Regions from separate parts of the Homo sapiens genome. Here region 2 is linked to region 1. Evidence: fine-mapped expression QTL. A gene starts in region 1. The other region holds a variant in brackets. All regions are shown on one strand. Distances are from middle to middle.

Evidence for each region. PIP is the estimated chance that this variant, and not a neighbour inherited with it, causes the effect. A credible set is the group of variants that fine-mapping cannot tell apart.
Region 2: its variant is the best candidate, but not a certain one, in a credible set for the expression of PCBD1 in lung (TOPMed, PIP 0.66).

Annotation. Positions count from the first base shown.
Region 1 is chr10:70,886,399-70,890,795 of GRCh38, forward strand. It overlaps PCBD1 (pterin-4 alpha-carbinolamine dehydratase 1), which reads right to left and starts at 2,167. Exons shown (of 4, transcript NM_000281.4): 1 at 2,133-2,167. The coding sequence starts at 2,135. RefSeq lists silencers at 1,424-1,703, 2,034-2,283.
Region 2 is chr10:70,831,450-70,835,846 of GRCh38, forward strand. The region is part of intron 2 of SGPL1 (sphingosine-1-phosphate lyase 1); the gene reads left to right. Among named protein-coding and RNA genes, the nearest start is that of SGPL1, 18 kb to the left of the region's middle. The variant C/T (reference allele first, on the strand shown) is at 2,406.

The sequences.
Region 1 (4,397 bases):
TGCACCCCACGTCCCTACCGTAACTTTCACGTGTATTGAAGAGGAAACAGGCCTAGAGAGGGGAAACGACTTGTCTGCTGTTCTTTCCCGCCCACCCCTAGCCAGTGATGGCGCAGTGTTGTCTGTGTGTCAGCATTGCTGGGGCTGGACGAAGGAGCTACATTTAAAATAAGTGTCCATCCCATTCTTAGCCACACTGCAGCTGACCGCCGTTGGCACTACCTCTAGTAGGTCCTCAGTCATGCTCCCAGGCAGCCTCTGGTCCTGAGCCGCCAGGGCTAGGTTTCTCTGGTTTTCCGTCTGCTTTTCTGGCTGGTTGGGAAGCTCAGGCCAAAGTGGAAGGAACTTGGCCAAAGGCAGCTGGCAAACCTAGTGCCCCATCCTATTTACCTAATGTGCGAAGTGCCCTCAAGGCAGCCCAAATTGGCACAATTCAGGCCATGAGTGGAACCTCAGAGAAAGCAAGGAAGCAAGGGTCAGTTTCATCCTAGGAGGATCCAGGTCTAGGAGCTTAACAGATCCCAGAACCTAGGCTTCTAGAGTAGCACCACCCCAGGGCAGAAATAGAGTGCTGAATTGAAAAGATACCCTTAGGGGTGGGGAGGGAATGTGAGGGAGGTTGATTTAGCTTTTATGAGGCAGCCTGCAGACTGGACACCATGTGTTGATTGGCAGGAGTTTTGAGACCCGCTTTCACCATTTACCAGCCAGGTGGCTGTACCTCTCTTGGCAGAACCTCCACCTCCACAGATCATCATGAGGTGCCAATGGGACACTTTAGGAAACTCCACTGCTATAAAGCAAATGTCATCTGCATTACAAAAAAAAAACTTCCTAAGGCAAGCAGGCTTGTGATGGGCCTGGTAGCATTTGGGGTAGCTGAAGCATCGCAGTGCTTTCCTAAGTCCGTCTTTTTTCCCTGCTGTTTTCCCTCCTGAAAACGTGAGCTCTCTCTGGACTGATGTAGCTTGGCCCCTCTCTTCCCCTCGGCTCTGGATGACTATAGGGATTGAATGGCAGCAGCGATTTGCATCATCTGCCCAGTAGGTAGGTCTCTACTCCAGAGCTGGCCTTCTCCCCGTGGCTGACCGCCTGGTCCGTGTATCTAGACAACCAGAAGTCAGCCAAAGCATCAGAGCCCACTGTTTACTTCCTTGGCTCTTAAAGGGGTGGGTGAGTCCAGGTGAGCTCTTAGGAGGCTTCCCTTTCTCGGTAGAGCCTTCTGGAACCCCCCAGGTCGCACAGCCTGCGGCTGAACTGACAAACCTTCCAGGTGCCGGCTCTGGAGACAGAGAGGGGGACGCTGCCCCGTTTGCCTCCTCTGGCGAGGTGTGGGGAGTGGTTACCGATTTCCCAAGCCTGCATCTCTGGGACCTCAGCGCCCCTCACAAACAGCCCCACTCATCCTCCCTCCCCCAAGTCCCTCTCCTATCAAAAGGCCCTCCCAGTCTTGCCTGCTCCGAAGGCCTGTGGACCAGAAATGGTCTGATGAAGCTCGCGAGCTTACAGCAGAGCAAGGGCCCCGCCCCCGCCCCCGCCCCGGGGGTGGGTGGGGGAAGCTCACGGGAGGAGGGCTGCTCCAGCGCCACCAAGCCCCCGTGGCCTGGCACGGGCCTCAAGCCGGCGCGGGGAGTGGCTCTGGGGCCAGCATACCGGCGCAGAGCGTGAGTCCCAGGCAGACCCCGTACCCAGAGTGCCAGCGGGAAGGGGCAGCGGACAGGCACGCACACGAGCGCGCAAACTCAGCCTCCCTCTCGCTCCCACCCCAGTATAAAGCAGAATCGGGCCACCAAGGGGACGAGATCCGTGGACTCCTCCACGACTGTCTTCCCCGGCCCAGGAAGGTCGTAGGCCCCGCCCCCGGAAGGGTCCCGGAACAAGCACTGGCCGGGGTCAGGGCAGGCCTGGCCTCCCAACTGGGTGGGATTCGAACCCGCCACCGCCCCTCTCAGGGCTTCAGCTTCCCCTCCCCGCCGCCAGCGACAGAGAGCCGGGCAGAGACCCCACTTTCGGACCCCGGCGGCTCCGCAGGGGACTCGAAAAGACTTTCCCCCGCCCCTTCCCGCTCCCACCTCGCCCGCGGCTGCCCCGGCCCCGCTGCCCCGATCGCGGCCGCGCACCCCTGGACTCACCATGGCGCGGGCGGCAGCAGGTGGCCAGCGGAGAGGGCAGGCGGCGGCCGGGCGCGCAGGCTGCCGTCCCGGGGCGGGGCCGCGCTCGGGCCGCCCTCCGGTAATGATTAACGTCCCCAGCCAGGGACGCGCTCGGCCTGCTTGCTTCCAGCACTTTCCTCGCTGCTCAGAGCCATCCTCCGTGCTTGTTTCAGGGAGCTAGGGTGAAGCATGAGGGCTCCAAATGCCCGCTTCTGGGTTGGAATCCCACCCCGCCGCTTACAGCTGGGTGGCCCTGGGCGCCAGAATACCTATTTTTTTCTTTATAAAAATCTCTTATTTGGATATAATTGACATGCAATAAATTGCACATATTCAACGTGTACAATTTGATAAATTTTAATGTTTCCCTCGTGAGACCATCACCGAGATCAACATTATGAACATATCATCATCCCTGCAAGTTTTCCCTTGCCCTTTGGTAACCCCTTCCTCCCGAAACCACCTGGCCAGGCAAGCACTGATGTACTTTAGGTCACTATAAATTAGTTTGCATTTTCTAGAATTTTATGTAAATGGACCATAGAGTATATACTAGGCAGGATAACTGTTTTGGGGTTCAGCCATGTTGTTGCCTATATCAATGGTTTCTTCCTTTTATGGCTAAGTAAAATTTATTTTATAGTATTGCATTGTACAGATAGACTACAATTTGTTTAGCGATTCACTATTGGACATTTGCGTTGTTTACCTTTTGGCTATTACAAATAAAGCTGCTGCGAATATGGTGCACAAATCTTCGAAAGTACGTATGTTTTAATTTTCCTTGAGTAAACACTTAGGAATGGAATGCCTGGGTCATGTGGTAGGTGGACTTTTATAACTTATTAGGAAACTGCCATACTGTTTTGCAAAATGGTTGTATCATTTTATATTCCTAGCAGCAGTGTATGAAGGTTGCAGTTCTCTGTCCTCACCAACACTTGATATAGTCAGCCTTTTAAATTTTAATTGGTGTGTAGCAGTATCTCATTGTGGTTTTGAGTTTCCTTGATTAGTAATTGTATTGAATGTCTTTTCATGTACTTATTTGCTAAGGATAAGTTTTTTTTATTGAATAGCATGTTTGAATTTCCTGCCCATTAAAAAAGAAATTGGGTTGTCTTCTTATCGAGTTTTGAGGGTGTTTTATTCTGGATATAAGGACATGATCAGGCAGTGATTTGCAAATATTTTCTTTGCATTATCTTATGGTGCCTTTCAAAGAGCAAACGTTCTTAATTTTGATGAAATCCAATATATCAAATGTTTCTTTTATGGATTTCTATTTTGATGTTGTACACATAGAAATCTTGGCCTAACCCAAGATCAAAAGTTTTCTCCTATGTTTTATAGCTTTTGGTTTTACATTTAGTCTGTGATCCACTTTGAGTAAATATTTTTATATGCTTCAAGTTATAGATCCAGATGCACTTTTGCACATGGCGACTCAGTTATTCCTTTCTCCACTGAGTTGTCTTTGCACCTTTGTAAAATATCAATTGACTGTATACATGTGGGTTTATTTCTGAGCCCTTTCTTCTGTTCCATTGATCTGTTTGTCTGTCATGACAGAACACTACCTTGTCTTGATTATTATAGCTTTATAATAAGTCTTAGAGTCAGATTAGAAAAGTCCTCTCACATTTCACATTTTTCTATTAACTTTTATTCTTGTGCTCCACTTTTATTCCCCGCCCCCCACCACCGCCCATAGCAGCCTCTCTAATGTGTTAATGTGTATTTTTGTTTGCACAGGTTCTTGCAAAATGTGTGGTGTTGTTTCGTCTATGTGTATTTTTAAATTTATGTAAATGGTATTATGTAAATATATTACATTTCTCAGTCTGTTTCTTACAAAACAGAGTATTTAGTGGAAAATTAAGATCTACCCATGTTGCTATATGTATATTCAATCTGTAGCTTTTAACTGCAGCCTAGTATTTTGTAATGAGAATCTGCCATGGGTTTCTTGTTCTATCAGTGATGGACACTCAGGTTCCCTTCAACTTTCTGCTGCTACCACCACCTCCCAAGCCCGTGAGCATGTGGGCACACAAACACATACGTACACAGAGTTAAACAACAATGCTGCTGCAGTGAACATCTCTAATTGCTCCCTGGGCTGTGGGCAGTTTCTTAGGCAACTTAAGTATATCCATACCCTATAAATCCAGCAATTCCCCCCATGGGTGTGTATCTCAAAATAGTTCTAGATGATGTCCAGGATGGGGACACCAGTCCTCA
Region 2 (4,397 bases), 55 kb before region 1:
GTCTTCAAGGTGAGGTTCCCATGACCTCCTCTTGGATTGGATTAATTTGCTGGAACAGCTCACAGAACTCAGGGAAACATTTACTTAGGTTTACAGGTTTATTTTAAGGGATACTGCAAAGGTTACAAATGAAGAGATGCATGGGGCAAGGTATAGGGGAAGGGGTGTGGAGCCTCCATGCCTCCCTGGGTGCACCACCCTCCAGGAACCTCCATGTGTTCAGCTATCCAGAGGCTCTCTGAACCCTGTCCTTTTGGGTTTTTATGGAGGCTTAGTTACATAGGCATGATTGACAACCATGTAGAAATGTGACTGGACACAGGAGGCATGATCTCATACTAATAGACTGACCGGAAACCCAGCAAGGCCTGTCTGTTCAGGTTGTCGCTGGCCTTTCTGTGCAGCCTTCCTTCCTCCAGAATATGGGGCACAACCCTCCCAGGAATGAGGGTTTTTTGGCCCACAGTTGGACTAGAGTCTTGCTTTGAGGCAGGTAAAAGAGGACAGGAGAAGGTTGAGAGAGATTCTGTTTCCTGAGGCCCAAAGTGCCCCAGCATTATAATAGAAGACTATAACAAGGGCTATGGGGGTTATGAACCAGGAACCATGGATGCAAACCAATATATACGTATAACATCACAGAAGCACACTTTCCTGCTCACTTTCAATAGATACCACAAAGTTTGAAACTCTTCCAAGTATTAATTTTAAATTAAATTTACTCAGCTGCTTACTTCAGCTTTTAAAAGTAGGTTCTTGGTAATTTCGAAGATGCACTTTCCAAAGGGTGTTTATATAGTTGAAGGTCAGTCAGAGACCTAGGGATAGGTCCCTGCTTATTCTTTTGAGCAGGCTTACGTGTTGGAAATCTCTAGAGAAATAGCTTTAGTTAGGTTACACTTCTCAGCAAATATTCAGTATTCCTCATCTCTAATAGCAGCATGACTGTTGTAGGGAAGGAATTTCCACAAATGGTTATGAAAAGTCTAAGTGTCTTAACTCCCAGACAAAGATAGAGAATTCTGTTAGTAAGATAAGTATGGGACTGGAGAAGTCAGCTAACCTCTGCCCTTCCCCAATCGTGATATGCTCAGAGAAGTTAAGACTTCTTTCTGTGTGAGAAATACGGGATCTTTTCCACTAGATCTTGCTTATTATCCAAGAAATTATCATTTCTAGTTTTAGAGAATGATGAAACTCATTTGTGCTTTGAAATATAACCTGTATACATGTGCACAGTAAGTCATTTAGCTATTTATTGTCAGACTCTGAGAGTTCATAGCAAACTTAGCAACATTCCATGTGCAAATTTGCATATTTTTCCCCCCATATCTTACCTACTTGCCTTAGGCTGGGAGTCTATTTTCCTACAAAACTGGTAATTGCTCTTATCTCTGTGTCCTTCAGTGTGTTCCTCTGCTTATTGAATTCAGTTTTATGCATTTAGTCTTCTCTCCTAGTATAAGCTGCTCCTGATACTTTTAAATATGTATTTCAGAAGAGAGGTGCTCAGAATTGTTACTTAACAGAATCAGCATCTCCCTTTACTTGATGCCTTGTCCTGACCACAAGTACATTAATAAAGTGACCATTTAGCAGTGTTTCGGGTTCAGCTTTTAGGAACTTAGAAGCTGTGGTTTTCCATGAGTGCACTTCTGATGACTTGGGAACATTTCATATGTGTGTTCTTTCTGTGGCCAAGATGGTTTTGTTATTTCAGGGATGGAAAGATGCTTTGCCTGAATACTCCCATGCTAAGTGTATAGCAGTTGGTGCTTGGGGAATGGTACCAAGTGTACATATCTGGCAAGGCCAGGCTAGAAGGGAAAATGTAGACTCTTAAGCTTTTTGAGACGAACTTCTCAGATACTGGATCTCTTGACTCACATAGTGGAATTTTGGGGGAAGTATGTGGTTTGCTTTTTGTCTCCTAAGAAATGATGATTCAGTTTCCTCAAACGTTTCTCACAGTCACTACTGGTTGCTTGGAATGGCTGTCTGGTTTTGTTGCTCAGTTCTTACTTCTTTAATGACCCAAGAGGATTTTCCCTTTGGGGTTGTGATGTGTTTTTGATGATAAACTTTAATGCTTTTGGAGGCTATAAAGACAATAGTATTTTCTTACCTGTTTACCTTGCACTTTGAAGTTCTGTAGACTGTAATATGAAAGAAAATCAGATTAAATTAGCTTTGCTTTCTGGCTTTTCTTTTTTTGGTGGGGGGGCAGAAGCTGATAAGAATAAATATACTAACTGAGTCTCTTCTGTATTTTAACTTCACTCCCTAGGCTGAGGCTTAGTCCTTAGAGTAACATTTGAACTGGGTAGAACAGATTTTTCTTTTCCTCAACAGCCCATTCCTGCTGTAAAGCTCAGATTTATGGTCCTTCTGGAAAAAGTATTGAG[C/T]GTTGAATAGTTCAGGAAAACAAATAACAAATTCTGTCTTCTTTGCAGGATTGTGGGGTAGAAGATTTTGATTTTTATTAGTATCTGGCCAAAGAATAAATATTAGGCAGGAACAATGAATTGATATCTAGTAGAGTGACGTGACTGGGCCCTGACTTTTAACACTTCCCAGGAAAGCTTCGTGGATGTCTTTTCCCTGCTGCGTGAATACCGGGTAGCCATTAAGTTTGGTGATTGGGTGTCAGTAATATGTTAAGTCAGCTACTGGGTCATCTTTTAATAAAAGAAAAGGATGGGGAAGAGAATGGATTCTTAAGCAGTGTTGCCTGTCAGAATCACCGGAGGGAGGTTTACAAAATACACATTCTGTACTCTGACCCTGTGGGTGGGGTATTCTGACCCAAGAAGATGATTCGTTCCAGGAATCATGCTTCTTGGATGATATTGATGTACCCCCACTGGCTTTATGGAAAGAATATTGAAGAAGAAGATAGATTCTCTTGGGGGCTGTGCCTCTAGTTTGAAACCAGGGAAGGCACATTTTGGTATTAGTCTGTGGCCTCAGTTTCTTCATCACTGCAATGAGATTGGACTATAGGTGGTCTCTAAGGTTCCTTCAGACAGTAGCATTTTATGATTTTGAAGACAACTTTTCTGAAGTACTTTTCAAACTAATTTCTTTCCGTCTTTCTTTTGTAAGCAAATAAGTAGTATGAGTGTAAGTCTCTAGCTCAGAGAAGAATGAAGTTTGCAGTTCGAAAAGGCCATGCAATAGCAGTTCACTTCCCCAAAATGCTCAGCCCTTGTAGGATGCCGTTAGGTCATCTGGAAGTTCTGTATGCCTTCACTGGGAGCGTAGTGAAGATGAGAGCCTTTCCTTTGGCTCTTGGAGTAAACTAGCTGACAGGACTTTGAGAACTGTTGGTCTCCTGATTTGTGCCACTGATAGTTTGGCTCTGGAAAACTAGGCAGTGGAAAAAACAATGCATTTTAAACCAGAAGATTTGAGTCCTGGCTCCGCTATTTCCGAGCTTTGTGACCTGTAGGCCTCAATGTCTTCATCTGTGAAGGACAGGTTCAGCTCTGATGGCCTATGATGTGATGAACCTTGTGAACTTGTAGGCAGAGTGCCACGGTGTGCAGAGTCCAGTTACAGATAACCAGCCATTCTCCTCTGCAGATTCAACCCACTGCCACTGTGTCTTGTTAAGCTTAAATAGGAGAGATGTGGGAGAGAGGAGGCAGAAACATCCTAGGATCTTGCAAAACAAAACTGTCAAAAGTATAGGCAATATCATAATTACTTTATTTGAATAAACGTTGAGTTCCTGCTGTGTTGAAGATGCTGTTTTAGGCAGTGTAGGAGATAGAAGACTTATATCCTCCTCCTAATTTGTATTCTTATCAGCACCTGGTACCATAGAGAGTTCATATATTAAAATTATTTGGTTGTTCTCCCTAACCAGAGTTGAATTCTTTCCTTCTAGGACAAATTAACTCATAATGCAATAGGCTAATGCAGTTTGGCCCTGAGTGACTCTTGAGAAATACCCTGAGTTGAGGCACACTGGAAACGTGGCACATTAGAAATGCCAAGAAGAGGCCGGGTGCGGTGGCTCATGCCTGTAATCCCAGCTCTTTGGGAGGCCGAGGCGGGTGGATCACGAGGCAGGAGATCGAGACCATCCTGGCTAACACGGTGAAACCCTGTCTCTACTAAAAATACAAAAAATTAGCTGGGAGTGGTGGCGGGTGCCTGTAGTCCCAGCTACTTGGGAGGCTGAGGCAGGAGAATGGCTTGAACCCGGGAGGTGGAGTTTGCAGTGAACCAAGATTGCACCACTGCACTCCAGCCTGGGTGACAGAGCAAGACTCCGTCTCAAAAAAAAAAAAAAAAAAGAAATGCCAAGAAGACATTGTACAGGAGAATGAAGGGAAACTTTCTGTAGGGAAGTAGCTTTCCCAGAAACTTGACTCTATAATGAAGCTATA